Regions from separate parts of the Homo sapiens genome. Here all the other regions are linked to region 5. Evidence: fine-mapped expression QTL. A gene starts in region 5. Each other region holds a variant in brackets. All regions are shown on one strand. Distances are between the middles of the regions. Region 1 overlaps TMEM71 (transmembrane protein 71). Region 2 overlaps PHF20L1 (PHD finger protein 20 like 1). Region 3 overlaps LOC105375771 (a long non-coding RNA gene). Region 4 overlaps TMEM71 (transmembrane protein 71). Region 5 holds the start of TMEM71 (transmembrane protein 71).

The links. PIP is the estimated chance that this variant, and not a neighbour inherited with it, causes the effect.
Region 1: its variant is the best candidate, but not a certain one, in a credible set for the expression of TMEM71 in whole blood (TOPMed, PIP 0.72).
Region 2: its variant is the best candidate, but not a certain one, in a credible set for the expression of TMEM71 in whole blood (INTERVAL, PIP 0.77).
Region 3: its variant is the best candidate, but not a certain one, in a credible set for the expression of TMEM71 in whole blood (Lepik 2017, PIP 0.84).
Region 4: its variant is the best candidate, but not a certain one, in a credible set for the expression of TMEM71 in whole blood (TOPMed, PIP 0.53).

Annotation. Positions count from the first base shown.
Region 1 is chr8:132,734,317-132,740,511 of GRCh38, reverse strand. The region is part of intron 5 of TMEM71 (transmembrane protein 71); the gene reads left to right. Among named protein-coding and RNA genes, the nearest start is that of TMEM71, 23 kb to the left of the region's middle. The variant A/G (reference allele first, on the strand shown) is at 3,652.
Region 2 is chr8:132,829,201-132,835,395 of GRCh38, reverse strand. PHF20L1 (PHD finger protein 20 like 1) reads right to left here. Exons shown (of 21, transcript NM_016018.5): 15 at 2,997-3,161. Among named protein-coding and RNA genes, the nearest start is that of TG, 35 kb to the left of the region's middle. The variant G/A (reference allele first, on the strand shown) is at 2,930.
Region 3 is chr8:133,340,096-133,346,290 of GRCh38, reverse strand. LOC105375771 (a long non-coding RNA gene) reads left to right here. Exons shown (of 3, transcript XR_001746096.2): 3 at 940-1,536. Among named protein-coding and RNA genes, the nearest start is that of NDRG1, 46 kb to the right of the region's middle. The variant G/A (reference allele first, on the strand shown) is at 3,224.
Region 4 is chr8:132,727,333-132,733,527 of GRCh38, reverse strand. TMEM71 (transmembrane protein 71) reads left to right here. Exons shown (of 10, transcript NM_001382403.1): 6 at 5,542-5,730. Among named protein-coding and RNA genes, the nearest start is that of TMEM71, 30 kb to the left of the region's middle. The variant T/A (reference allele first, on the strand shown) is at 2,797.
Region 5 is chr8:132,757,659-132,763,853 of GRCh38, reverse strand. TMEM71 (transmembrane protein 71) reads left to right here and starts at 3,272. Exons shown (of 10, transcript NM_001382403.1): 1 at 3,272-3,378; 2 at 4,939-5,014. The coding sequence starts at 4,975.

The DNA of each region.
Region 1 (6,195 bases), 23 kb after region 5:
GTGAATAAAATGGACAAAATGACTTGCTCTTGTGGAACTTGCATTTCTACTGGGGGAGATAGACAATAAATAAATTATGTAGCATGTTAATAAGTGGTGAGTGGTATGGGAAACAAGAAAAGGGGAAGTGATGGGGATTGCAAATGTAAATAAAATGGTTAGAGAAGGCCTCATTGAGAAGAACTTTTGAGCATTGGCTTAAAAGCAAAAGCAAAACAGCTCTGTGGATATCTGGGGGAGGAACAATCCAGGCAAGTGAAATGCTGGTGTACAAGTTCTAGTCTCAGAGCCTGCACTGGGCTGAGTGAGTGAGGGGGGATAGTAGGGAAAAGACTGAAAGGTGTGTCAGGAATGCAAGTGGGAAAGAACAAGGGGAGCTGTGGGGTCATTTCAAAGGCTTTGCTTTCATACTCTGAGTGGAGGGCAAACCACTGGAGGATTCTGAGCTGAGGAATAACTTGTTTCAATTTACATGTTAAAAGGATTATTCCAGCTGCTGAGTTCAGATTAGATGTCCGCTATTAGGAGCAGAAGCAAGAAACACGTTAAGAGGCTATTGGTGTGATTCAGGTGGGAGATAATGGCAGCTTGAACTGAGATGATAGCAGAATGGTGATGAGAAGTAGGATTCCAGATTCGTCTTACAGGTAGACTCAACAAGATTTGCCTACGTGGCTGTGAGAGAAAAAGAGAAGTCAAGGGTGCTTATTCCATGCTGAGCACTTCACATTTTGTCTTTTTAAAATATATTAGCTTGTTTACATACATTATCTTGTTTAAATATCCCCAAAACTCATAAGAAGTAGGTCATATTATCATATTTATTATAATTATGATAAAACTGAAGTTCAGGGTTAAGGAACTCGCCCAAGTTAATTTAGCTTATAAACAGCAGAGTTGGGGCCTGACACGGTGGCTCACTCCTGTAATCCCAGCACTTTGGGAGGCCGAGGCAGGCGGATCACGAGGTCAGGAGATCGAGACCATCCTGGCTAACATGGTGAAACCCCGTCTCTACTAAAAATACAAAAAATTAGATGGGCATGGTGGCGGGCACCTGTAGTCCCAGCTATGCGGGAAGCTGAGGCAGGAGAATGGCGTGAACCTGGGAGGCGGAGCTTGCAGTGAGCGGAGACCGCGCCACTGCACTCCAGCCTGGGTGACAGAGCGAGACTCCATCTCAAAAACAAAAACAAAAACAAAAACAGCAGAGTTGGAATTCAACCGAGGTCTATCTGATTTAAAAGTCCAGACTCTGCTCTGCTGCCCGGAAGGGCTTTGTTTTCCTTTTCAAGGAGAAATCCATCATGTCCCTCATAGTGCAGGCCGAAAGAGCAAGCTAGAGGAGTCGTATAATGCAATAATCTATTAACTTAAGTGTATAATAATTACATGGCTATGATTTTTCTTAATCTGCTTCCTAGACAGAAGACACACGTAACATTTTTTTTTAATTTTCAGTAACTTTGATTCACAAAATGTTACAAAAAATAGTATAGAGAGGGTCAGTGTATGCTTCACCCAGCTTTGCCCACTGATAACTACTTATACAGCTATAGCACATTATCAAAACCAGGAAATGGACGTTGGCACAATGCCATGAAGATTCCACCAATTTTTACATATATTCCTGTGTGTGTGTGTGTGTGTGTGCATGTAATACTAGATTAGTTTTAAGAATGCAATAAGTGCTTGTTAAATGAAGAAACAGTTCTTAATATGATCAAAGGATTACTTAAATTGAGTGATTCTAGTTTTCCACAATAACAAGAGTGTAAAAGCAGGAAGAGGAGAGGGGAAAGAGCAGGGATGTGGGGGGTGAGGCCAGAAATATTAATTGTAGATATTTGAAGAACCTTTTATGCCATATTGAGGATTTGGGGTTTTATCTAATCAATCAAGAATATTTTTTGATTCTCTTAAGCAGGGTGATGATGCAATCAGATTTGGAATTTTCAAGTTATCTTTGCAGTAGCACAATTGAGGATTGGATGGGAGCTCTGAGGCAATTAAAATCAACCAGTATCCTAAGGAAGTGGCAGGAAATAGGGAGGAAGGAAGAGACTTAAAGAATATTTTCCAAGGTAGAATTGACAGGTTAGTGATAGATAGAATATAGTAGTGAGAACGTGGGAGAATCAAAGAAAACTGAGGTATTTAATTTGGGAGACTGCATAAAAAATTCTGCAAGTCACCAAGGGCTGGAAGATAGTGTGGTAGAGTGATAAGGAAAATGAGCTTTTGAACTAGATGAACCTGAATTCAAATCCTAGAACCAGCTTTTCCCACCTGAATGTTCTTGGGCAAGTTATTAACTAACCTCTCTGATCCTCTACTTCTTATATATAAAATAAAAAAATAGCATATAGAATGGGGAGGATGAAATGCAATAATTCATGAAAAATGTCACACTTCTAATATCTCTTATGAATACCAGGGGCTGGTATTCTGCTTAATACACATTAGCTCTAAAAAGGCAGAAAAGAACAGCTGAGGATCATCAAAACAGACAATGAATTGTATTTCTTATGGGTTGAATTTGAGATATCTTATGGGAAATAGATAACCAGTAGAGGTTTGGAAACATAAGAAGGGGGTTCAGGAGTAATTCATAAGCCAATCTGAGAAGGAATACAGTTGATACATAAGCCAATCTGAGAAGCAATACAGTTTTTTGGAATAAAGAAGTCTACTTATGGAAAACAAGTGAATGAGAAGAAAGGAGCGGTAAGAAAGGAATTCAGGAGGTTGAACAGAAGCCCCAGTAATAATGATCCCTAATTGTGTGAGTGCTAGGGGCAAGCACAGTTCCAAGAAAGCCACATGTCACGTCATCACTTCTCTGCAAAGCCTCTGAGTTATTATTATTTATCCCCATTTTCCAGGGGAAGAAGCTAAGGTAGCTTAGGTACTATATATGAGGCCACACAGGTAAGAAGTCGCATAGCCAGGATTTGAAGAGAAAAGTCTGAGCATGTGCTCTTAATCCTGGGAAAAAGCTCTTTGGGGAAAGTTTCTCAGGCAAGGAAGCAAGAGAGTGTGGTGTTATGAAAGAAAAGAATATGAAGAACTGGCTAATGAAGCACAGCTTGATAAGGAGGTCAACTCAAGAATTCTGTAGTCCCTGGTAGATGTGTTATGTGTGGAATCTTCCCTCCAAAGGCAAAGGAGAAGTTATCTCTCTGACTCTTTCTGACAGAGTGGCACAAATATCTTAGTACAGAGCTCTCGTTACTTTTTAATTGAGATATAATCCACGTTCCTTAAAATCTACCAACTTAACGTATACAATTCAGCGATTTTTTAGTATAGTCACAGGGAGGCCATGCAATCACGACTGCTTTCCTGTTCCAGAACATTCCATCAGCCCCAAAAAGAAACCTGATACTCACTCGCAGTCACTCCTCCTTCCCCACCAGCCCCTGACGACCAATATTCATCTACTTTCAGTCTCCGTGGATTTGCCTATTTTGGACTCTCATTATTTTGTTTCATTTTGATAAAATGTTTAATTAAGGTGTTGTTGATGAAGTGGGCAATGTGATGTTTCAACATATGTACACACTGTGAAATGGGGAAATCAAGTTAATTAACATATCCATCACCTCGTATACTTACCATTTGTTATTGTTGTTGTGAGAACATTTAAGA[A/G]CTGCTCTCTCAGCAATTTTTTTTTTTTTTGAGACAGAGTCTCACTCTGTTGCCCAGGCTGGGGTGCAGTGGTCCAGTCTTGGCTTACTGCAACCTCCACCTCGTGGGCTCAAGCAATTCTCCTGCCTCAGCCTGCCAAGTAGCTGGAACTACAGGCATGAGCCACCATGCCTGGCTAAGTTTTTGCATTTTCAGTTGAGATGGGGTTTCACCATGTTGGCCAGGCTGGTCTCAAACTCCTGAGCTCAAGTAATCTGCCCTCCTTGGCTTCCCAATGTACTGGGATTACAGGTGTGAGCCACCATGCCTGGCCCTCTCCTAGCAATTTTCAAGAATACAACACATTATTATTAACTCTAGTCACCATGATATAGGATAGATTTCCAGAACATTTTTCATCCTGTCTGACTGGAATTTTGTACCCTTTGACCAACATCTCCCCATCTCCTACCCCACCCACTCATGATTTTCTGAGGCTGCCTCTTCCTCTCAGTGGTTACTGCTGCTCCAGGAATGGCTTACTCAGGCTCACCTCTAATGTGCCTTTTGGAGTGTCCATCCATTGATTCTCCCCTGTTTTTTTCTGGAGCAACAAGGCAAGTGTCTTCTCAGTTCTAAAGCAATGTTTTCTAAGGTGTAGGGTAGGGTAGGAAATGCTGCTAGCACAGAGCAACAGTGAACGTTGAATCACACAGTAAGAGAGAAGTTGTGGCTCCTCTTCCAATTCCCTTACAATCCTTCTGATAAAACCAAGAAGACCAAGGCTCAGTTTAGAACCTTGGTAGCTGTCAGATTCTCTAACATTTGCTACAATCTCTTTGGTTTTAACAAAGTTCTTCTTAACCAAGAACAGGCTCAGAGCTTTCTGCTACACCAGTATTTCACACGTATTAAATAAGGTTACATTTTCCATTGTACTTATTTTTACCTTTACTTTCTGTTTAGGGCATTTACGTGACTGTTATAAAGTTTGCTTTAAAGTAAAAATGTAAAATGAGACAATCTTAAGAAAATATTAAATGGCTGAGAGCAAGCAGGTTCTGGGATTTGGCAAAAATCAGGAAAATAATGCCTGGATGACTAAAGTCTGAGAATCACTGTTCTAAAGACAGTATGTCACATATTTAGAAATTAACATCTAATTTTTCCTTCGTTGTCTCTTTGAAATATGTCCAAACAATTTCAAAGGGATTGGACCACAGCAATGCTGCACGTGCATGAGGTATCTTATTAAAATTCTCATGGTTTCCAAATATCCTCTAAATATAACAAATCAAACTACCTCCATCCAAAATCAGTAATTAGTCAACCTGGGCGCACACAGAACTTTGAAATCTTTCATCTCTGCTGTCAGAGTAATCACATCTTCCCCAGACTTCTTGCTTTCCAGATTTACCCAAGGCCCCGTGACTTTTATCAGCAATTTATTTTTCTCTGGAAATGCCTAGTTAGAAGACTCCAGAAGAAATCAAAATTAAATTGTTTTGCTGTTTTCTCTCTGAGCAATGGATGCAATCAAACATTACTTCCCCTGATTTTCTTGTGCTTCATTTTTCAGGCAAGAGGATGTTTTTGCCTGTTTTGTTTGTCCTCAGTTCACCCCTTTCCCAGCTGTGTTGACACCTTTCCTCATTAGTTGCAATTCATTCTTGAGCCACGGAATTTTGCAGCTACCCAGGCCCCAATACTGCAATTCGGGATGTGTTCCCAGAGCCTGTGAGTCATACTGAAAGAGAGCAGAGGATTCACGCAGGGAGGACTGAACAGGATGGACTCTATTTCTGCCAGTCCTGGAAAAGGCAGGCTGACTCCAGGCAAGTCACCTGAGCTTGAGGTGCATGCCTTTCTCTAGAACTCATGCCTGTCACATAAATATCTTTGAGATGGCAACATCAGTATGTGGCTTTGGGCTTCTCTTTATAGCAAATAATGCCCATTTTTATATAAAAGGATATGGAAGATGTGCTTAGAAGATACAGAATCTTCCCAACAGAGGTAAAGTACATCAAATTTAGAAATCAAGTTAAACAGAATGAAATAGATACCTTCAACAATAATACAACTAGAGCTATTTGGTAAAATATTTTTTGCCTTATAATCCTTTTATTTGTTATTAAGTTTGGAGAAGAAAATTCACTGTCAATTAGGGAAAGTGAGTTTGGGTTAAATCATGTCTTTTCAGAGATGAAAAATCTCCTTGATCGTTTTTGAATGTTAAGACTTTTTTGTGGTTTCTCTGTTGAATACCATATTTTCTTTCAGAAAATTTTATGTACAATTTCCAGTATTCTACATATTTTTTATTTCATCCAACTCTCAGCAGCAAAGCTTTATATTCAACTGGGCAGCCCTGGGAAACAGCACATCTTTTTACTGTTGTTACAGTCTCGTCCACATCTACCCAGATTGTAGTTAAGGGGCACTCATGACTACATAATTAGCCGTGGAAGTTCCCATCTCTTTCTCACTTCCACATTGATTTGATCAGCTAGCCTCCTCTTTTTTTTAACAGCTTTATTGAGGTGTAATTGCTATACAGAGAAC
Region 2 (6,195 bases), 72 kb before region 5:
GAGTCATCATGAGAAACAGAACATCGTATAATGCTGTGTGAGCTCCTGACAGAGGCTAATCAGCAGAGCACCTTCCTACCTCACATCCTATCCCCTAGCCACATTCTGAGTTATCTCTTCACTTGCTTATCATCTGTCTTCTCTTACTAGAATATCAGAATCCATGACAGCAAGAACTTTGCATTGTTGAATGCTACATCCCCAGTTATTAGAATGAGGCCTGATATATAATATAGCCACTCCAGAATGTTTGTAGAAGAACTAAGGAGAGAGTCAGAGAGAGAATATTTTCTTTTCAGACTTAATCAGATGGGACCGAAGTTGAACAGATTTGAACTTTAAAAATTCACGCTATTTATACTCTACATTTTTCACATGATTTAGTGTTTCCTCTATCAGCTTCTAATCTTGCTTACTTTTTTCTTCATTCAATGTTTTTGAATGTTTTGTTGTTGATTAATGTTTTATAGAAAAATAAAGTTTTCTTCTCTTTGAAGTCACAGGGACATACGGAAGGAAGGTCAGCAGAAATAGATAATAAAGAAATATCTGAAAATATTCATGGAGCTAGTAAATCAACTAGATATGGAAAATCTAGTATGAACAGTATAACTTGTTTTAAAAGAACCTAAAGAGGAAAATTTCACCCATCCATAATCTTGCTGGCTTAAATCCAAATTTTCTTTTGGGCTTTCTCAAGTTCATTGGAATGTGGGTAAAACAGTTTCAAACACTGTTGCAGCATATAAACAGTATTAAATGGGCCGGGCACAGCGGCTCACACCTCTAGTCCCAGCACTTTGGGAGGCCGTGGTGAGAGGATCACTTTAAGTTAGGAGTTTGAAACCAGCCTGTACAACAAAGCAAGCCCTCATCTCTACAAAAGCAAAAATAATTTGCTAGGCATGATGACCTGTGCTGGTAGTCTTAGCTACTCAGGAGGCTGAGGCAAGAGGATTGCTTGAGCCAAGGAGTTTGAGGCTGCAATGAACTACGATCACACCAGTATTTCAGCCTAGGCAACAGAGCAAGATCTTGCCTCAATAAATAAATAAATAAAAATTAATTTGAAATTATATCATTGAAAGGAATTAGTGTATCTCACATATACTTGCATGGCAAAGATTACCAGTTTTATGGTGTTAGCAAGCAAATTTATCATATTCTCCACAAATCTAGTTTGAATAACTCCCAAGCATTAAACTTATGCTTAGCTGAGTTTTGGAAGTTGAGTAAAATGGATGACAGAGCTGAAAGTTATGTAAGAAGCAAATAAAAGTTCCCCCTTACGCTTGAATAGCCACCTAGACAATGGCTCCAACTGAGTGGCCACAAGAACAGCTGTTGCCTTCCAGCAACTACCCCTTAAATTGTCATTGCTATTTCCTGAGACAGCATTTTGCAAGTGTGGTTTCCTGATCAGCAACATTTATCATCACCGGGGAACTTGCTGGAACTCAGAAATTCTGAGGGTGAGGCCCAGAAATGTGTTTTAACACACTCTCTGGGCAGTTCTGACACATGCTAACATTGAGAATTTCTGGCCTAAGGCCTTATTAATTTTCCTTTTCTTTCTCCTGACTTAGTACTTGATCATAAGGGCAGGGCAGAGACTAAGAACAGAGAGTACACATCTATGGCTCTTTTCATGCTCTTTCAAGGGTTCTTGTTTCAGCACCACAACTAGCCTAGATATAACCCCTATTCTCCATCTTTCTATAGCAAGAGATAATCTTCAGATCTTGATGATTCACAGTAAGGATGTTCTTAATGTGATTATCAACCTCTGCTTCTCCATAGCATCACCTAGAAGTTGTATCTTGCCAGGATCCTTCCAGAAATCTCATTCAATTGTGCCTCATGGTAGGATCCATGATCAGTATAGTTTAGAAGAACCGCAGCAATGATTGTAAGGTTCACCGGGGGTGAAGAACCACTGAACCATGGGAAAAAGTAGACTTGTATTTGCTGGAAAAGGGTGGTGGTAACTTCTTTTTTAATCCCCTCCCATACCTCAAGGTTCTAAAAATAAAATCTCACAAGTGTCATGAGCTATAAAGGAAAGAAAATGCTTTCTCCATAACGAGCCAGGGAGGACTTAGACCTGGAAGCAAACGGTGCAAAAGCAAACATTTAACCTAGTATCCACCATCGAGGTCAGTCAGAAGAAAGAAAAAGGGAGGAAGTGAGCTCACTCACAAGGATCCTAGGTTGTACTTATGCTGAAGGCCCCGTCCCTTATTCCTCACTCTCTGACTCTGGTTGCTATTGCATTAGAGCTCTACTCTTATGCCACAGCCCTCAATGTCTACAGCTGGGATCTCTGTGCCTATTGCTTACAATATTGGAAGCAAGGTAAGAGTCTTCAACACTTTCCACTGTCAGGACTGGACCTGCAGGAAAGTCTAACAGATTTGAACTCCAGTGCTCCCTTCACTGCTGACGTGGCCTTCTGACTACCTAAGGGCGCTTAGTTCCTGCCTGTGTTTAAATCAGTTGTCTGACTACATCTCAGGACTTTGGTTACAGATGTATCTGACCAGGAATTCAAAGTATACTTTTAAGATTACCATAAATGTTTATTTAAGAAAGCATTATCTACGGAGTTAAGACAGACCTTGGTTAGAGTTTTAATTCTAACACTAGCTAAGCCGAAAAGCTACTTACCCTGTAAGTTTCGGCTTGTTTATATATCAAATGTGAATAATACCTACTCTGTCAGTTGATAGTGAAGAATATAAAAATATATGTGCAAAAACCTACAGAAGTATATACACTAGTAATATTTTCCTTATGACTCTCTTCCACCAATAAGTATAAAGCCAATTTAACTTTATATAAATTAAAAAGTAGCTCAAATTTCTCACATCAAGACTTTCATATTAGTTTAGCTAACAAGTTTTTAAATCGCATGCTCTTAACAGAGTAC[G/A]TTTTATTCTCAGTTACACATTTAGGAATTGTAAGTCTTGTTTTAACCATCACATGGTTACACATACTTTCACCACTAAGATCAACGGATAGAATTGCCCTTGGGTACTGATAGGTTGTAGTTTTCTCCGTAAACATGCTTCGTGAAGCCAGAGAACTCCCAGAAGATCGAGTTAGTGGAGAAGAGCACCTTTCCAAAAATTCGAGGGAACTGTCTTCATAGTCTGAATAGTCTGCAACATAAGATACAGAAAGAAATATTAATAAAGTGTCAGATAATTAAGGTCACTATAAAAATAACGAAAGTCATGTTTCAGGATACACCAAATAATCATGCTACCACTTTCGCTTCTCATCCATGAAAAGCTACATATGGATCTGATGAACTGGGTTTAGCAAGAACACTTGGGAAACAAATATACCCCAGACAATATATACATAGTAGGGGGCACCAGGTTCTAACTGGTACCTGTAAACTTTTGTGAAGTACTATAGAGGTGAAAAAGGATTATTTCACATTTTCTCTCCATTATAATCACAACTATGTCTGCAGTAAAATATGCAAGATGACAACACATGGACACATGGGGAAGAACAACACACACTGGGGCCTGTGGGAAGTGGGGGAGAGCATCAGCAAGAACAGCTAATGCGTGCTGGGCTTAACACCTAGGTGATGGGTTGATCTGTGCAGCAAACCACCATGGCACACATTTACCTGTGTAACAAACCTGCACATCCTGTACATGTACCCCAGAACTTATTCGGTTGGTGCAAAAGTAATTGAGGTACTTTTGTACCAACCTAATAAAAGTTGAAGAGGAAAAAAAAAAGATATGCAAGATGGAAATTCACCTTTTTTCTTCCCCACAATTCGTAAAGAGGTTCTCCTGATGTCTGGCACACCAATTATACAGTGATAATCTGATCAATAAATTTTTCAAGTAATAAATCTCTGAAGGTAATTAACTAGTCCTGGAAGAACTCTGTAAAAATTCTGTTTTTCTCAGTTTTGTAATGAGTCCCACAGATGTGTGCAAGGGGAGAGGCCATATGCAGCTTACTGGAGAGTTGAGGGTATAGTAAGGGAAGGAAAAAAGGAGGTGGGGGTGTGATTCCAGGCATGTGGGAAGGCTCTGAAGCTGAAGAGTGCATGCCACATTTGGCAAGCTGTAAGACTGGCTGGAACACAGTGAATAAGGGAGAAACAAAGCTAGAGTGACAGGAGCCAGATTAGCTTTTTTTAAAAAGTTTTACCCTAATGCAATAAAAAGTCATTCAATGCTTATGTGGAGGAGGAGCAAGATGTGACAGTTTCATTTCCAGAGGATCACTCTAGCTGTGGAATGGAGGATGGAATGCAGGAAGGCACACATAGAAGTGGGGGGACAGTTCAGAGGCTACAGCAGTAGTCCAGGAAAGAAATGTTGGTGGCTCAGAACTTGGGTGATGGCAAATAAGGGGAAGATTTTAAGGAAGATGGAGTGCTGTTATAGACTGGAGGCCGAGAGCTAAGACGGCATTATCAAGATTGATTTCCAGGTTTATGCGTGAGCAACAAGGCAACAAAAGTGGGTATGAGATGGGGCTGAAGAGTAAATGCAAGGTGGAGAAACCAGAGAAGAAACAGAAGTTTAGAAGAGGGCTCTGTAAGATGGGAAATCTTACACATTACCTACATGAACCTTAAGATGTGGGAAAGGGGGATGGCAGTGGTGAGAAATGCTAGATTAAGAAAAGCAGACATTCCCTCCATTTTAATAGAGGCTAAGATGATGAATATTTTCATGTAAGCATGCAGATGTGGTAGATAGAGTATGAGCAAGTTCCCACCTGATGATGTCTGTCTTCTCAACTCTGTGAGGAAAAGGATGTCAAGTGACGCAGGTTAGGGAATACATGAGAGGTGGAAATGAGAGATGGAAACGAGTGGGAAAAAGGAAAGACAGAGAGTGGAAAAGTGAGCTTATAAGAGACGCATTGGTCTGTGCTAAGTATCCATTTGAAGGTGGCAGCTGTGGGAGACAGAATAGTCTGCCAAAAATGTCTATGTCCTAAACCCTAGAACTTTTAAATAAGCTAAGCTATGTGGAAAAGTGGAATTAAGGTTGCTAATCGGCTGACCTCACAACAGGGAGAGTATCCTGGATCATATGGGTGGGCCCAATGTAATGGCAAGGGTCCTTAAAAGTGAAAGGATGGAGGCAGAAGAGATGACGTGAGAGTGAAACAAGATGAGAAAGACTGGACCACTGCTGACTTTGAAGATGGGAGCAGGACAAGAGCCAAGCAATGCAGAAGCCTCTGGAAACTAGAAGAGGCAAGAAAACAGACTGTCCCTAAGAGCCTCCAGAGAAAAATGGAGCCCTGTTGATACCTTGGTTTTAACCTAGAGAGACCCATTTTGGACTCCTGACCTCCAGAACTTTAAGATAATAAATACATATTTTTTTAAACCACTGATGTGCAGTAATTTGCAACAGCAGCAATGGGAAACTTACACTCATCATCATAAATACCACGGCACAACCAACACTGATTGAGGGCTCTCTATGTGCCAAATGCAATTTTCAGTTCTTTATGTGTATTAACTCTTTTAATCCTCACAAGCATCTAATGAGGGAAGTAGGACTGCTAGTAAAGAATTGAGGCAAGACAGATGAAGCAAATTGCCCAAGAATATACAACTATCAATAGCAAAGCCAACATTCAAACCCAGGCAGCCTGACTATGGAAGCTACACTCTTAACAAATAAGTGATATCGGTGTATTTCAACATTTAAAGGGTGCACAAGCTGGCAAGCTTGTTAAACCCCAGATTCCTGGGCCTCATCTCCAGTGCACTGGGAATGAAACACTCCCAGATGATGCTGATGCTGTCAGATTACAGCAGTCTTTGGGCAGCACTACGCTATTCTGACTCCAGTGGCCTCACCATAACCACAGTTTGCCCAACACCATATTACTTAGGCCCAGACATGGAAAGGACATTTATTAAATGCCAGGTACTGTATCAAGTACTTTACAATGATTACTTTATTTAATTCGAATAATAAATCTATGCAATAAAACTATCAATTACCATTTATTTTAGAAGAAAGGAAACTGGGATGTAGAGAATTTAAATAACCTGTCAAAGGTCGCTTAGCTGTAAGTGTTACGGGCAGGATTTGAATACCTATACTAAACCTTCAAGGCTGCCTTCTTATCAACTCCATTATATATTGTCCTTTCAGCAAAAGTAAAAGTAGAAGCAGAATCTGATTG
Region 3 (6,195 bases), 580 kb before region 5:
GAAATACAAATGGCAACACGCATGTAAAAGTATGCTCGACAGAACTAATAATTGGGGAAACACATGTCTACATTTCACATTTTTCCCTGCTCAAGGATGGAACAAGGTATGGCAAAGATTCAGAGGTCCCTGTTGGAGTGAAAATATCTGCAAATCTTCTAGAGGAAAAAATCAATCATATATATATCAAAAACTTCTAAAAACAGTGAATGTTTTGATTCAGCAATTTGTCATTTAGGACTTTCTAGAGCTATTTCATAGGAAAATACTCGGAAAAGTACACAGCATTGTTTATAATAGTAAAGGATTGAAAGGAAGTTAACCAGCCATTAATAGAAAGTGGATTAAATGAATTGTTTCATTGATTTGGTGGAATATAATGCAGGAAATATCTTAATCAATTGGGCTTTTAAGCCACTGACCTTGCTTCAGAAAATATTTGCCAACCCTTCCCAACTCTTATCATCCAGGTTTGAGCACCCAGATATTCATTTACCCATTCATTTCAGACATGTATTTAGTGCCACGTGAGAGCAGTAATTGTGTATGATATTGTCCCTGTCTCTGAAGTATTTTCACCGTGGTTGGCAAAAGTATTTAAAAACATTAATTATTAAGTAAACACAAAGCAAATAGAACAGTTGAATGCACATTGACTGACAACACCATCTCTTTCATCCAGAAGTCACCAGCAAGGTCCAAAATGAATAAAAGAGTACCTAATGCTAGGGAGGATGAAGGCTAAGAAGCCCTGGAGTTGAGAATATTAATTGGCATGTCATCCTTGTCTTCCAATAGAAGCTTGGCCAAATAAACTATTATACATACGTAAAAAGGAACTCCATAACTCTGAACAGAAAATGGTGTGGAACGATCTCCATGATATTGTTAAAAGAAACGAAAAGATTTCTTTTTATTTTATTTCTTTTATTTGAACAGTTTGTGCAGCATGCCTCCAGTTGTGTAAAGAATGTAAAAGGGAAATGTCTCAAAACAGAAGAAGACGCCTGTGGGCAGCACCTTCTGCAGAGTGATCCTGGGAGCTGGAAAGAAGACTCACTTTTCATTTTACAACCTTGGGCACTGTAAGGATATTTTGGGCTTGGTATGTGTGTTTTGTTGTTGTTGTTTTTTGTTTGTTTTATTATACTTTAAGTTTTAGGGTACATGTACACAACGTGCTGGTTAGTTACATATGTATACATGTGCCATGTTGGTGTGCTGCACCCATTAACTCATCATTTAACATTAGGTATATCTCCTAATGCTATCCCTCCCCCTCCCCCCACCCCACAACAGGCCCCGGTGTGTGATGTTCCCCTTCCTGTGTCCATGTGTTCTCATTGTTCAATTCCCACCTATGAGTGAGAACATGCGGTGTTTGGTTTTTTGTCCTTGAGATAGTTTGCTGAGAATGATGGTTTCCAGCTTCATCCATGTCCCTACAAAGGACATGAACTCATCATTTTTTATGGCTGCATAGTATTCCATGGTGTATGGTATGTGTGTTTTATAAAAATAACTTAATGAAACATTTTTAATGTCTCAGAGATAGTGTGTTCATGACAGTTCACCTCACTAGCATCTTCTGAATCCACTCATTTATTCATCCATTTGTCCATTGATTCAGCATTTTGGTGGCAGTCATTTTAGGAAGGAAGATATGAAAGCAGAGAAGACAAGGCCCCCACTTCCAGGACAGGATCCTCAGAGTCTAAGGGGGAAGGCCATGGGAGCAGGTGCTGAGAGGAGGAGGGTCTCCCCAGAGCTGAGGAGGGCTCAAGAGGCAGTGACTGACCTCACCTAGCTGCATGTGTGCAGTGGGGGCATGGCTGGGCAGCAGGGAGGGTCCAAGAAAAGGGGCTATCTAAGCTGGGCTTTGAAAGGCACATGAAGTTGGGTCAGATGAGGAAGGCCAGGCAGGAACCTTGGCATCCACTAGAGCAAACAATTAATGTTTCCAACTCAACCGACCTATTTGGCAGGAATGAGAAATTCATGAGCCAAAGGGGAGAGAGAAGGAAGGAGGCATTCAGACTGGGAGACTATGAGAGAGATTTTATGGTTTTTCATGGAAGAAATCACACCTCGTTTTATTATTTTTGATTTTTATTACGTTTACAAAAAAAAATCTGTACCCATCTTCAGTCACATGGCAACCAAAGACCCTGCTGCTCAGAGCAGTGAACTTTGTCTCTCCTCTTCCAGAGTAGCTCATGATATTACAGGGTCCAGTCCAGGGCTGCCGGGAGGACAATGCAGTTTCTCTTAGACACTGAAATACATTTCAATGACACAGCAGCAGGCCACTGAGAGCTTCTGGTAGGGCTTCTCAAACTTCTGTCATTCAAGGTCCCAGTTAATATAGGGCACTTGTAATCATAGCTGGATTCCTGGAGGTGTGAACTTGGGCAAGTCACTTTCTCTCTCTGAAAATCCAACATCCCCAACTTTCAGGATTGACACAAAGACTAATGTGACATTGTCCTACATCAATTGCCCATCATCATCTTATATCTCAAATGCCTTACATTTATCCTCTACGTGTCTGGGCAATATTCCCTGCCCAAGGACTTGTTGATAGCAGCCACCCAGGCTGCCCTCTGATCTCCCTTTTCTCTTCTTCCTCCTATAGTATCTTTCAGATCAGTCTTGCATTGACTCCCATAGACACAGTCGTGGTTCAGTTTTCATTCTGCCTCGCATTTTCTCCCTGACTTGGTGTTTCCACACATAGTGGAAGACATCAAGGTCTTTTGAAAATACAGATCTGATTATGTCAACCTCCTGTTTCTAATTCCTCAATGGCTCCCAATTGCCTAAAGGCAAATCACGACTACTCATGAGAGTATACAAGGGCCTTCCTGGCCAGCCTCTATCTACTCAATCAGCCTCAATTCTAGATTTTCCAAATCCCCTGTTTTATGCCCAACAGATATGATTATTAATCATTCCTAAAACCCACCGCATTTTCTCATGCTTCCATGCTTTTGCACAGGCTGTTCCCACTGCCTGGAACTACCATGCTTTCCAAACTTTCTCTTTATCTAGAAGTATTGTGCCTCCTTGGCATTTCCCCAGACACCTACGTTCCCTGGCTAGGTTAGGTGACTCTGCTCTGTACTCCTTCCTATAGTTGTCTGAGCTACCTCAGTCATCACAGTTAGCACAGAGCCTGGGCTCAGCTTTTCTCTGTACCCGCTTCTTTTGTTGACCTAGAGTG[G/A]CCTAAGTGGTGCATCCAGCACGGAGCATGGTTAGAGAGAACAGATGTGAGTCAAATGAGAGAATGTATGTCTCTGGTGCTAACCCAGGGTATGAGTGACAGCCCTTTGCCTGTGTTTCAGATACAATGTCCCTTGTCTGAGAGCTTCCACGGTATGTGGAAATGACCACCGTCACCTTCCACTAGGAGACTGTTTCTTCCAATGCAATTACCAGACATGTGGAACAACTGGGGCTTAACATCTTTCCATCATTAGAATAGAAGGTATTATGGCTCTCCAAAAAAACAGAACCAATAGGAAAGACATATAGATATATAGATATAGATATAAATTAATGAAAAGATTGTGAGGAATTGACTCATGTGGTTGTGGAGGCTGAGAATTCTCACCATCTTCTATCCACCAGCTGGAGACCCAGGAAAGTGAGTGCTGTAATTCCAGCCTGAATCCAAAGGCCTGACAACCAGGGAATTTGACGCTATAAGTCCCGGTCCAAGGGCAAGAGAAGATGAGATGCCCCAGCTCAACCAGGCATGCAGGAAGCAAAAGGGATGAATCTTTCCCTCCTTCCTCTGCCTTTTTGTTCTATTCAGCCCCTCGATGGATTGGATGGTTTCCACCCACACTGGGAAGGGCCATCTGCTTTACTAAGTTCCCCCACTTGAATGCTAGTCTCATCCAGAAACATCTGCACAGATACACCTGGAAAAAATTGGTGAATCAGAGCATTAACCCGTTGGCCCAGTCAAGTTGACACAAAATTAAACCATCACAGAAACTATCTCTTCTGAATAAATATATTTCTCCTTTCCATGGACAAATCTACCTTTAATTAATTTTACAGGGCTTCTGTGGGCAAAGGAATCTTAGAGTTCATCTAGTTAGTTCTGCCCCTGTGCCTGCTTTGCAGATGGGGAAACTGAGGCTCAGAGAGCAGACCTGAGTCCCAGGGCCTGCTGTGGGGCAGAGCTAGTCTGAGCTCCTTCCAGCACGCCTTGCTCTGCAGTGAGCCTGATTTATTTCCAGGGGCTGTGGTCTTGGCCCTCCTGGGCCTGCTGCCTTGTTTTCCCGTGGCCCCTTACAGAGCTCAAAACACTCCCCGCTCAGAAATGAGGTGATTACTCTCACTTTTGCAGATGAGGAAACAGAGGCCCAGACAAGTGCAGTGTCCCGAGGTCACCAGCAGAAGACTCAAACTGAGGTCCTCTGTCTCCTAACCCAGTGCTGTTTCTTCTAAAAAAAAACAAAAAAACCCAAACCCATTGGGATACAAGGACCAAGAAACGTAATTGTTTCTAGATAATTTAAAAGGCAAAGATGCATAGATACTGCCTGTGTCTTAGAAGCTGGAAGAAAATACAGTTCAGAAGGCTAGGGAAGAATGATAGAGGAGCATAGGGTAACTTCTCTAAATGCTGTTTACATACCTGGAATTCCACCACACCCTCTGCCAGTGCAAGCTTCCTCTTTCTGACCCATTTATTTCCTAGAAAAGAACTAAAACTCATGACTCCATTCCCCTTTGTAAAGTAGATATTCTTTACTATCTGAATCCAAATTATAGATCCTATGATCTCCTTACATATGTAATTTTAAGACAATAGATATGATGTGCTTTTACATATAAAGGAGAAATGGAATAAAAATGATTTGTAGTATATTTCTAAATATGCAAGTGCTTGGGCATGACCACACTGGAAGACATGATGAAACAATCAGATTCCCAACACCTATAAATAAGGAACCACTGTGAATGCACACTTACAAACACAGACCAACTTGGGTGTGTTTTGCTGGTGATTCAGAGACTATGAGTAGAATTGCTGAGAGTGTTGTAATTTTCCCAAACAGCAAGTGACTCTTGAAAGAACTCCAGACCAAACAAAGCACAAGCTTCTCTCACTTTACACTGTAGTTGCTTCCTAGAACATTTAGGAAATATTAACAGTGTGCACAAAAGCCCGTCTGAGTGTCTATGTAACATGTAGCTAGGTTCTGAGCTTAGATCATCATAAACGACTGTTTTACTTGCATGAATGTCCACCGGCACATTTTTTTCATACCCTTAGCTTGACTTCAGTAGCACATTTTTAAGTAGGGTGGGATATGAAGTAATTTTTGTACAGTAAACAAATGATGGATGCAGGGTAGGGTAGTACACCTATGTAACTCACACTAGCCAGACCGTGGTTAATACAGGGTTTGGCGGGAGATAGGTAGATAATAGTAAATAATGATAATAAAAATAATAGCTAGCACTTGTATAATTTGTGCCAGGAACTTTTTTTTTTTTTTTTTTTAGACGGAGTCTCACTCTGTCACCCAGGCTGGAGTGCAGTGGTGCGATCTTGGCTCACTGCAACCTCTGCCTCCCGGGTTCAAGCAATTATCTGCCTCATCTGCCTCAGCCTCCTGAGTAGCTGGGATTACAGGTCCCTGACACCATTCCTGGCTAATTTTTGTATTTTTAGTAGAGGCGAGGTTTCACCACCTTGGCCAGGCTGGTCTTGAACTCCTGACCTCATGATCCATGTGACTTGGCCTTCCAAAGTGCTGGGATTATAGGCGTGAGCCACCGCGCCAGGCCATGTCAGGGACTTCTAAATGCTTCCTATATATTAATGTATTGATTCCTCATAACAATCCTGTCAGATTGATGGCAGTATTATTCTCATTTTACAGATATAGGAACAGAGACATAGAGAGGTTATAGGACTTTCTGGAGGTTACACAGGTAAAAGGCATTTAGTTCAGCATGACAAATGCCCAAGAATACCTCCTACCTGCTGTCTGCAGGGGCAGTATGGAAACTGATCATGCTCTGGGTCCACAGGAGAGGGACCTAATACACACACACACACACACACACACGCACACACACACACGCATATATATGGAGAGAGAGAGAAGAAAGGTTTATTATGAGAAATTGGCTCATGTGATTACGGAGGCTGAGAAGTCCCATGATCTG
Region 4 (6,195 bases), 30 kb after region 5:
CAGTCCAAAACCCCCAACTCAGTATCCAGGCTGAGGGGAACCACAGGTGAAGTCAGCCCACCAGCTATTCTCCTCTCTTGAAGTCGCAGTCTTAGCTCAAACTTAGCCTCCGTGGTGGCAAATACTGACCCACTTTCTCTATAGTTACTGTACCCTGTTATAACAGGCCTACGTTAGATTTTGCAAATAACAACACTACATATCTTAGCCTCCTACCCCTTACCGAATTCTCTGTAAAACTTACTGAATGCTAACTATGAGCTGGGTACTAATTGCTGGTGTCTGGGACAGATGAAGTGACCTTTTTCTCACGGAGCCTTTTGTCTAGTGAGGGAGACAGACACTAAACAACAACAACAAAAAAACACACACACAGAAATTATGTATTCTATTGTCTGTATTTCTGTAACAATGATAAAATCATAAATTATGATCTGTCCTCTGAAGGCAGAGAACAGAGTGTTTTGACTAGATTAAGTACAACCAGGAAAATACAGACACGTGATTCTCACTTGAAGCACCTACCAGAGTTGTCGAAAGGACTCTAATGATCCAGTTGCCTTAGACGGTTAGGTCAGCTCTCTCAATGACAGGGTTTCTCAGCCTCAGCATCACAGTATCGTGGGCAGGTAATGTCTTGTTGTGGCACCTGCCCTGTGCACTGTTGGGTGTTTAATAGCATCCCTGGCCTCTGTTCAGTAGATGCCCGTAACACCCCTCACCTCACTCCAAGTTGTGACAACGTAAACTGTCTCAAGATATTGCACCATGTCCCCGGGGAGGAGAAATCACCCCCTATTAAGAACTACTGTTGTATGAGGACCCCAATGTCTCTTGGAGCCCCATAGTCACTCAGCTCCTAGAATGGGAGACTGGGAATCTCGCAAATCTCTCACTGCTGAGTGAGCATTTTAACACACAAAGCAACTCATGTTACACTCATGCTCAGATTTTTTTAATGACTCTAAATCACCCACAGAATCAATATTAGCTTGGAGTGTGACATGAGACCCCACACAATGTGACCTCTGCTTAGCAGCCCAGACAGAATCATCTCCTGGGACTGACCTCATGCACATGCTCTTGTCTAGCTACACAGGAGGACTCTTCTGGGAACCCACCCTGGTCTCTCATAGATTGAGGTATTGTAATTTCTCCCCATCCCCACTTACTCTCTTCCTCTCTGCCTGGCCTGTCCTCTTCCTGCTGTCTCTCTGGAAGAACTGTTACTCATCCTTCCAGTTTCCACTGAAGCGCTGCCTCCTCTGTGAAGCCTCCTTGGATTTCCCTCAGACAGACTCAGACACCCCTTCCTAGATTCCCACTGGATAACTTGTTCCAGCCTTTGTTGTAGCAATTACCTCATTGCATCCTAATTGTTCATTTGCATGTATGTCCCTCTCCAGATCATGAGTAAGGCAGAGCAATATCTAATTTGACTTCCTTCTTCCAGAGCAGCATTTGCAGTATATACAATAACTGCATTGAATGAATAAATAGATCTGCCTGGCCCGTATCCATGCAGCTTTTGCCTCCCGCCTTACTTTTGCTCCACCTCCCAATTCCTCTGGCTTGGGGGTCTTCTCTGGGTATGTCACCTGGGGGCTGCTTCAGTCTTTCCTCCCAGCTGGTTTCGTATCTTTCCTTAGTCATTTTATGTTCCAGACATTCCATGACAGCAATCAAGGCAGAGAAAGTTTCTATTTGTTAACTGGGGCTGTTCAGATTCCCCTGCTTGTTCCCCTTGAAGTTCCTACTACATGGTAAAAATCACCTTCTTGATTCTTTCCTTTCTTCCTCCCTGTTTTTCTTTTGTCCCTGTCTCTAAACCCTTCTCAGGAACTGTGGCTATTCCCCACCAGGTCAGGTTGGTCTTTCCCAGAGGCCCTCTTGCTATGCCTGTTCAGCTCTGTGATGAGGCAGGGGGCAGAGATTACAGTCTTTACCCTCTGCTGGGGCACTTTCTTCTAGAGAGGACCCTGTCCTATGGTGAAGTCGGGGCAAGTAAGCAGCCATATGGGATAAACCCTGTGCCTAGAAATGTCTGGAGCAGGTTTAGGAGTCCCTTCATGGTATAGCAAATTCCTGCATATCTAATTCAAAGTAAATATTACCTTCCCCAAGGTCAAGTAATAAGCTTCTTTTATTATTGAATGATAAATTCTTAAAAATCACTTCCACCTTGAAACATCGTTTGATGACTCATCAGCACCCTTCTACCACCCCCTACTCCCCATGAAGTTGATTATCACATTTGGTCACGTAACTAGGGTCTATATCTATTATAATGTCTATTAGCAATAGAAGTTTCAATTCTCTCCATCTAAACTATATGTTGGTATGTTTACATTTTTGTCTCTTCTCCTTCACTTATCACAGCTGTAAAAAAGTAGACATTACTATCCTATTTTACATGAAGAAACTCAGGATCAGAAAAATTAAGCAAAGTGCCCTGTTACTAGTATTAGAATGTATGTTTCAGTCTTTCTGATGCCAAAGTCCTTGAAATTTCCACAAAACCATATTTCATCTCTTTTTAGCAAATGATAGTCTGTTTCCCCTGTCCATAAGTGATGCCTTCTTTATTGCCTCCCACTGTTGACTCATGTGTACATGCACACACACACAAACACACACATGCACACATGTACACACACACCCTAGATTTCAACTTCTTTTGGGACAGTGTCTTATTCTCCCTTGTTTCCCTCCTAAGTGTCCTACAGTTCATAAGTTTACCAAATATTTGCCCAGTCGATATTCATATTTCCCTTAGTCATGAAATCAAGGCTTAGA[T/A]GGACCATAGAAGTAATTGTCCTGTTTAGACAAGAAGCAAAAATAAGGACATACTATGGGTATAAAATAACCACAAAAAAACAAAAAACACAAATTTTACAGGTCTTCAGAGTTTCCCCAAGGTAAAATAAATTAGGACAATTTCTCCAAACATCATGCCTCCTGCTCAAAGCTTAAAGCCAGACGGTAACATCCTGGCTACTCCCATCATCTCCCACTGCAGGATTATCTTTTTCTGAAGCATCATATTTATTCTCCTTACCCATAGGAGATTATCTCCCTGCATAATTTATAATTTTAGATTGTGAGCTCATGTCCTTTGGGCTTTATCTGGGGAAATCTGTGCAGCTTGGGCTGAGAGTGTGTTTCCACAGAGAGCTTTTATGTTGGCTTCTGGCAGATATCACAGGGCTAGTACCAGCCTGAGACTTTTTAAAATATTAATTTCCCAGGTTAGTATAAATTTTAACTCAAGGCCAGGCATGGTGACTCATGCCTGTAATCCTAGCACTTTGGGAGGCCGAGGTGGGTGGATCATCTGAGGTCGGGAGTTCAAGACTAGTCTGACCAACATGGAGAAACCCTATCTCAACTAAAAATACAAAATTAGCTGGGCATGGTGGCACATGCCTGTAATCCCAGCTATTCGGGAGGCTGAGGCAGGAGAATCGCCTGAACCCAGGAGGTGGAAGTTGCTGTGAGCTGAGCTTGCGCCATTGCACTCCAGCCTGGGCAACAAGAGCAAAACTCCGTCTCAAAAAAAAAAAAAAAATTTAACTGAAAACCCACTTACTTATAAAGTGTTGGCGGAGACATTTTCCTCCCACCCACTACATAGGCCAAAACAGATAAGCTTTCATGCCTTCTCCTAGAACTAGTGGGCAGATTTTTTTTCTTAGCCATCCTTTCATTGAGGAAATAGCATTTTGAGTCCCTACAGAAACTCGGTTTTAATTTTCTGCCTCTCTTGAGACCAAGGCCTTTTTTCTGTCCCTAATGTCATTTAATCCATAGACCTTTGACTACTATGACTTCTAAGGCCCTCTCCCCACCCCTTTTGGCAGCTTTGTCCACAGCGTATGCTTAGAGTTATAGGTTTCCCTGGCTTGGCCTTTGGGAATATTTCCTTCTTTTGAGCTCAGCTATAAAGAAAAGTACATTTGTTGGGCATGTGCAGTCCCTTTTAGATGTCAGCTTAGAAAACACCTACATCCCAAAGCAGGACTCTGGCTACTCTTTCTGAGTGGCTTTGCTTCCAAGTCAATGAGCTCTAAACTGGCACGAATTCTTACCCAAGATCATAAGAGTAAAGTTAAACCCTGGAATGTGACACAGACCACTCAAGACAGAACCAAGAGAATTCCTAGGTACATTTATGCCAGGTGAGCCAAATGGGAGACTTCCAGTGGTTGAGTCAGAGGTGTGGTGCTTAACTATCCCTGTGGTTGAAAGGCATTCTTAACACATTCATCCTTTCCAAGGAAGCTTTGGCTTATAGAGTTTTGGATCCCCTAATCTCTGACTCAAACTAAGAATCAAGGATTAAAATTCATTCCTTGGTGACCTCACATTGAAGACACCAAGTGTTATGAGGAATCATCTTAGCATGTTTGAAACTTGAAGTTGCATGCATGCTTTTGCAATAAACTTGACTTTTTGTGAGAATGTCAGGCTAAGTTTAGGGCAAGTAAAATATATTTATGTATGAATCATCATAGGAGAAAATGGGTGCATGTTCTTGAAGCTATGTGTGTATGAAATAGCCTCTTTGAATAAAAAAATTTAAACAGATGGTTGCTATATTTTATCTAGGCATTTCAATGTATTTTATAGAGGCAGAATTTCCTTCATGACACTTATCACAAGATATTTTCTTCCCTGCCACTCAGCAATATGTAAGGACAGAGATGTTGTTCTAATTCACCACTATATCCCAGCAGCTAGGTCAGTTTCTAATATATAGTCACATTCAATAAATGTTGAATGAATAAATGAATCAGAAGTAGAAAGAGTTGACTGCTGTAAAGTTTGGTCCTATAAAGATGTGAGGTTCATATACTGACTACATATCCTTTAAATCCATCTATACAAACTTCAGTGTCATTGAAGATGCCTCTGGCCTTTGTTTATCTCTGCACTGAAGATATTTCTCTTCAACCTTCAAGTATGAAGACAAATTGAAATGCCATTTGAAATGGTTTGCCTGTGTCCTCACCCAAATCTCATATTGAATTGTAGCTCCCACAATTCCCACATGTTGTGAGAGGGATCTGGTGGGAGGGTATTGAATCATGGTGATGGGTCTTTCTCATGCTGTTCTCATGATAGTGAATAAGTCTCATGAGATCTGATGGTTTTACAAGGGATTTCTCTTTTCACTTGACTCTTATTCTCTCTTTACCTGCCACTATCCATGTAAGATGTGACTTTGCTCCTCCTTGCCTTCCACCATGATTGTGAAGCCTCCCCAGCCATGTGGAACTGTGAGTCCATTAAATCTCTTTTTCTTTATAAATTACCCAGTCTCAGGAAAGTCTTTATCAGCAGCATGAAAACAGACGAATACATCATCTCATCTCATCCAAAAATCCTTCTCCCATCCCACTATGGTAGTGCAATACCGTATCAATATTACTATTTTTGTGATTATTAGGAACTAACTGTGCATTGAGCAGTCACTGAACACACACACACACACACACACACACACACACACACTCACACTGAACCCCTCTGCTTTTTCAGCAGATGATTTAGACTGTTCTTCTCTGACTGATGACTGGGAGTCAGGGAAGATGAATGCAGAGTCTGTGATCACCTCCTCTTCCAGCCACATCATATCTCAGCCTCCTGGAGGAAACTCCCATAGCTTGTCTCTTCAGTCCCAGTTGACAGCTTCTGAACGTTTCCAAGAGAATAGTTCGGATCATTCAGGTGAGTTCAGGTGTTTTAAATATTTGCCACACCCAAAGAATTCTTCCTTTCAGAGCCTGAGAATGACTTGGAGATGACTAAAATGCAGTTAGGAGCTGGTACCAACCTGTGCGAGGAAGGGAGGACATGGGGCCTCTGCCAAAGCCCAGGTGACCCTTTGCAGAGGAGATGACTGCCTTTGGGTGTCATGTTAGAGGCATCAGTAACTGGATCTGCAGTGTTTTACTTAAAAAATATTCAGAGACCGGGCACGGCAGGTCAGGCCTGTAATCCCAGCACTTTGGGAGGCCGAGGCGGGCGGATCACAAGGTCAGGAGATCAAGACCATCCTGGCTAACATGGTGAAACACTGTCTCTACTAAAAATACAAAAAATTAGCTGGGCATGGTGGCGGGTGCCTATAGTCCCAGCTACTCGGGAGGCTGAGGCAGGAGAATTGCATGAACCCAGGAGGCAGAGGTTGCA
Region 5 (6,195 bases):
GTCAAAGAGTATCTTAGGGACTAACAGTTTTGGCTTTACGTGGGAGCTGATATGAAACACTGTCTCCAATTCCCTCACTTCTGTAAGATCCTCTGTGATTCATTTGCAACACATGAACGTTTGCAACACATAGCTCTGGAACTGGGGTCTTGGGAGATATTATGTGACCAAAAGATTCTCAAGGCAAATAATTTTGACAGATGGTGAGACCATGTTTCCTGTGTATAGTAGCAAGTCCGAGTATCATTTAAAAGATTCTATAGTGACCTCTATTAGAGACCTATGCTTTCTAGAACTTTTTGTACTGAAATTTGCCACTCGTCTTTTCCCCATCCACACGCATCACCTCCATTAACAGTGGAGGACTGAATATTCTGTGGAACATGCTTTTAGAAACATTGATTTATAACATGCAGAATAAAGGTTCTGAAGGCAAGTCTACCTGGATGTAATTAATTTATTTGTTAATTCCACAAACATTAATTGATAACCTACTATATGGGAAGCACTACTCTTGATACTTGGGCTATTAAAATGAAGCAAAATGACAATATTCTCTGCTCTTTTAATGCTCATGTTCTGGCTGAGGAGTACGTTTCTTATTACAAGGAATGAATTGTGTGACATATTCCTTGGTAAAAAGTGCTAAGGAGAAGAATAAAGCAGGAAGAGACTAGGGAGTGGTGTGGAGGGCAATTAATTAGTAGCAAGGCAGTGGAGAAAAGAGCTGAGGGAGGGGAGGAAGAAAGCCCTGTGACCCTTAGGGTGAGGGAACACTAACCTCAAAGATCTTGAAGTAGACCCGTGTCTAGTGTATGAGAAACAAGAAGAAGATGAGTGGGTCTCAAGAGAGAAGATTGAGAGGGGAACCATAGGTTTGGAATTTAGTTCTGGCCATTGGCAATTTTGAAAGATTTATGCAAACTCTATAAACCTCTGTCCTGCATGTGGATAACAATTGCACTTATTTTCTAGGGCTACGTGAGGTTGAAACAAGATTACATATGTACAGTGTTTAGTGCAGTGCCTGGTTTGTAGAAAATGCTGACACACGTTGGATATGATCATTACACTTATAGGTTAAGAAAGCAAACTCGAGAGCCATCTCATCAGGGTTTGAATCCTAGCTCTACTTACTCATCACGTACTGGCTATGTGAATTTGGGCAACTCTCTAAACTCAGTTTGCTCTTCTGTAAAATGAGAATAATAATACAGCATCTCCCATGGAATTGATGTAACAATTAATGTGTTGATATGTGGAAAGACCTTAGAACAGTGCCTGGTACATAGTAAGCACTCCTTAAAGTTAGCAATTATTATGATCATTAATAATAAGGTTCTAATATGTGCCAGATCTTTAAAAAAAAAAAAAGTAGACCAAAGTCTTTCTGATGTGAGCTCTTCGGAAAAGTGGATTTGTGGGCACAGGAAGAGCAGAGGGTCTCGAATAAGTCAGAAAGATTTTCCTCCCTCATCTAGAAGAGATAAGCCAAGGCTGGAAGAGGGAGGATGAGGGATAAGAAAAACAGGAAAAGGAGAAGAAGAGAACTGTGAATTCCAGTAAAGAGAATACCAGACAGCTGTGAAGCAGAATAGCTGTCTGTTAAATTTAGGCAGATGTGACCAGGAGTAGCCTTGAGTAAATGTGACTATATTCTACAGGAGTCACTAAAGCAGCAGAGAGTCAGCAATGACAGATGGCTCAGGAAGTGACCTGTGTTAGGACTATGCATCTGCTATGTGTTGCTGTGTAACAAATTACCTCAAAACGTGGTGGCTTGAAATACCATTTGTCACTTCCCAGTTTGCGTGGGCCAGGGAGCTGGGCAGGGCTAGCCTGGGTTGTCTGCTTCTGGGTCTTTCCCAGTTCCAATCGAGCATTAGATGGGGCTGCAGTCAGCTCAAGGCTCAACTGGAGAAGGATCCACTTCCAAGCTCACACACTTGGTTTTTGGCTGGATTCCTGGCTGTTGGATGGAGCATCAGACCCTTACTGGCTTTTGAGACCACTCTTGATTCCTTGACACATGGGCTTCTCCACCATGGCAGCTTGCTTCATCAAAGCAGGCAAGCAAGAAAGTAATAGAGTCCAACAAGATGGAAGCCTCATCATGGTAGTGGAAACTCAGCACCTTTGCCTTACTTTATTTACAAGGAGCATGTCAGCAGCCTCAGTCTACACTCAAGGGATGGAGAATAGACATGAAGTTCCAGAGACAGAGAACTTTGAAATTAGATGGGCCCTCCTCCTGACAGTTCCTGCTGCCTAGAACATGTTCTACAGAAGATCCTGCCATGTGGCAGAACCTCAGGGGGAAAGGGAACCCCAGGAAAGGATGAGATTAACTTTTCCGCCAGCCGGACCAACTGGTGCCTCAGAAGAGAACTTGATTTAAGAAAACAAATAAAGAATACACCTTGCACATCTGTGCTGAGGACTCGATTATTTCTCATTTCTTTTATTTCATTTAATTCTTCAAGCCATCATATGACATATATATTTTTATGTTTATAATTGAGAAAACTGCAACTCAGAGGGGTAAGTCACAAATCTGAGGTCACACAGCTAGGATGGTAGACAGGTTGAATTTCTGTCTTGTGACCCCAGAATCCGCACTCTTTCCACTATGCAGTGGTACCTCAATGTTGCTGGAATATATATTTGAATGTACATTTCTTTTATCACTTACAGTAGTACAGATGTGTATGAACCCATAAACACCATCAAGTCTTTGAGCTCTACTATAATGTAAATGTAAAATGCCATCTATAGAGTTTTTTGTGAAGTCCAACCTTCATTAGATAAACCTATTGCCTCTATAGAAATTTTCATAAGATCAAGCTCTTGCTATTTAATAGTATTCTGAATTTAATAGCATCAGTGCATTATCCTCAATAAATTTAAGTGATTTGGACAAAGATCACTACTCTGCACTACTTATAACTGAATGTGGCCATATGATGAGCAAGAAATGTCAGTTCGCTGAGTCTTTCTCACGTTCTCGCAGCCAAAGGTGACAAGTTAGCTCAGAAAACCACCCCTCCAGTGACCAGGGTGTAACCAGCTGGCCTGACACATGGGCTGCACATTCCCTGCTGCTGGCCCAGGAAACTCTCTGAAATCTTCAGCACACTCCTCAGTGTGAATGCCACTGATGTGAGCCCAACAGGAAGTGTGACCTCATTCTGCTTCTTTGCCTCTGGTTACGCAGGCTGTTTTCAAAAGAAAACAAGAGAAGTTGTAAGACTGACTTTCCCAAGAACTATACACTCATTTATACCAGGAAACAGACAAGAGAACAAGAGGCTGCCGAAGACAAAACTTCTCTGCAAGCACCTGTGCACAGCAATGTGCGTGGGCATCTGTGAGAAGAAGGTAGGGTGGGATTCCCTTTATTAAGAGACTTCTGCACCTGTTGACATTCAGACATTTTTCAGCCGAGGAACTGCTCAGTCCTCAATTTTTCCACTGTCAACCACAGGAAGCTTCGTATTTCAGTAATAATTTTGTCCTTTGTCAATTGGAAGAAGAGGCTGGGAACTCCCTTTGGAAGGAACACGTATGCACACATTATTTTTCAGAATAGATGTGTCGCTTTGATGGAACTGGCAGATTCTGTTTCTTGAAAAGTTTTAGATCTGTAACTGAAGGGCTTTTTTTTTTCCTACTGTTACTAATTTTCTATTGAATGTCAGTGTACTGCCTGTAGATTCTTCTAAGCACTTGTGAGATAGAGCAATAAGACCTTCTTTTGCTGCAGGATTTATAGGCTTAAAATTAAGCTTAATACTTGGGGAACACTAAAATAAGGTAATTTGGGCTGGGCATACCCGTACAATATTGATCAAAAATGAAAAGAACAAGTAACATACTAATATATTACATTACACTGGGATTATTTTATATCCCAAACAAATGAAATTTGTAAATGTGTGCTTTGATTTAGAAATCTTCCAAGGAAGGCCAGAAAGTTCTCCTGACATCTTTACAGGTCTCTATAAACCAGGTTTATATTTTCCTAATAGGGTTTATATATAATTTATTGAAATATTCAACTTGAAGCTGTAGAATTAGCCTGGTTTGATTGATTGAATTACAGCTACAAAAACAATCCATTACTAGTTCTCATGTTACAAAATGTGGCCATAAGTGGTGAATCAGAAAATAATTTACTCCTACCTTATAAAGCGATTAGGATAGTGATACTATATACAAAGTTTCATAGTCAACAGAAGTTGGTTCTATTTGATGAACAGTAAATGATCAAAGTTTGCATAATTTACATACTTTGATATGTTTTTAATTAGTAATTGAGAAATTAAATCATGTCTTCATGGGAACTAAGTTCTAAAATCTTCCCAATGGTATGCTATCTTTAGTGCAACATTACTTATGCTGTTTAGGAATGTCCAGGCTGATAAAAACTATTAAAATCACTCTCTGTGACTACCTGTCAATGGTTCAAGTTGTTGGGAAAAAGACAGACACCAATCTCCAAGCACTGTTTGAAACTTGATAATGAAGTTGACTTGTGTCAGATGATTAAAATACACGTAAGTTTGTTTTGGGGCTAAATGACTGTTAGAACCAGTCATTTTATTAAGATTTCTTAATCAAATACCTCACTTTCATTATTTTCTTTGGATTACAAATCAACCTTTTTAAGTCTAGATTTTCCAAATAAAGTGTGGTTCTTATTTACAGAAAAATGTTATTGAGATGCACTGAGTGAGGCAATGGAAAATGTTCAGTCATAGAGGCAGACACAACTTTAGAGGGGTTGTGTCTTCAGTCTGGTCTCCTACCTTCAATTCTGTATCTCTGTATTATTTCAGTAAACAAATCTGACTAGTGCAATTAGTAGATGCCATCTGTTTTGGCATAATTTTTCTATTTTTAATATATAGTCCACCTTTTTTTTAACATCTTTTGCAGAGAATCTGTGAAGTTTGAGCAAGCGGCCTTCCCAAGATGTACCGAATATCTCAACTGATGTCAACACCAGTAGCAAGTAAATGTAGAAGAACTGTGATACGCAATTATCTTTTGAACGATTAGACTCCTTTTAGCAATTTCCTTGCTTTGATTTTGCTGATACTCAGACCATTAACCATCTGTCAGTAGCTTGTGCTTCTTAAATGCCAGTGTTCACTTTGGCAATGATTTTAACTTCATTTTTTTCCTTGAAAGAAATGTGGTATTTTTCCTTCTAGTAGAAAAAAAAAAATCACCGTTTTTTTTTAGATGCCTGTGCATAAATGTGAAAGGAGATTGTTTATCAGCTACTATTAAGATGCAAAACTGTTTGTATATAAAAAATGCTGAATGATTTTGATAGCTACTTGCAGAAAATAAGAGCGCTGTTAAAACGGTAGTGGTTTCAAGTTTCTTCCTTCCTCTTGTTATTTTCTCCCAAAACCCCACTTCTAACTCTCCCTCACACACCCACAGTTTTCTCCCTACAAATCAACCAGCCCAATCTGAAAGTCTAAATTCCTTTCTTTGTCCTAGATACTAATTGTCCATAATGGAATCAAATTTCACTAGCTTGTCTGTTAGGACTATTGACACCATCTCTGCACACGATAAAATTCTGCTTTAGAGTTTAGAATATTAATCAACTCCAACTTTCTCCAAGTAAAGTCTGTTGCCACGCCTTTGGTTAAAATGGAACGAATGAATGGATGATGTTTCTATAATTAAGAATACTCACAGTCTTTATACTTTGGAAAAATGTTATATAAAACAAAACAAAACTTTATTTCTTCCCCACTAATGTCTTTTGCTCATTATTTTACAGTAGAAGTGTCTTAATATGCACTAATGAGGGAGAGTCTAGAACAATGATTGAATTCCTCAGATTACTGAGTAAGCTGCAATAACCAACACATTGGGTAATTGATTTGGGTTTTCTCCTGCTTCACACAAGACGTTTTTTCCCATCCTTACATGAGCTCAGTTTGATGCTAATGATTTATTATTGCCTCATTCTGCACTAAGAAATTTTTTTTTTTTTTTTTTTTTTGAGACAGAATCTTGCTCTGTCGCCCAGGCTGGAGTGCAGTGGAGCGATCTCAGCTCACTGCAAGCTCTGCCTCCCAGGTTCACGCCATTCTCCTGCCTCAGCCTCCCCAGTAGCTGGGACTGCAGGCGCCCACCACCACGCCCTGCTAATTTTTTGTATATTTTAGT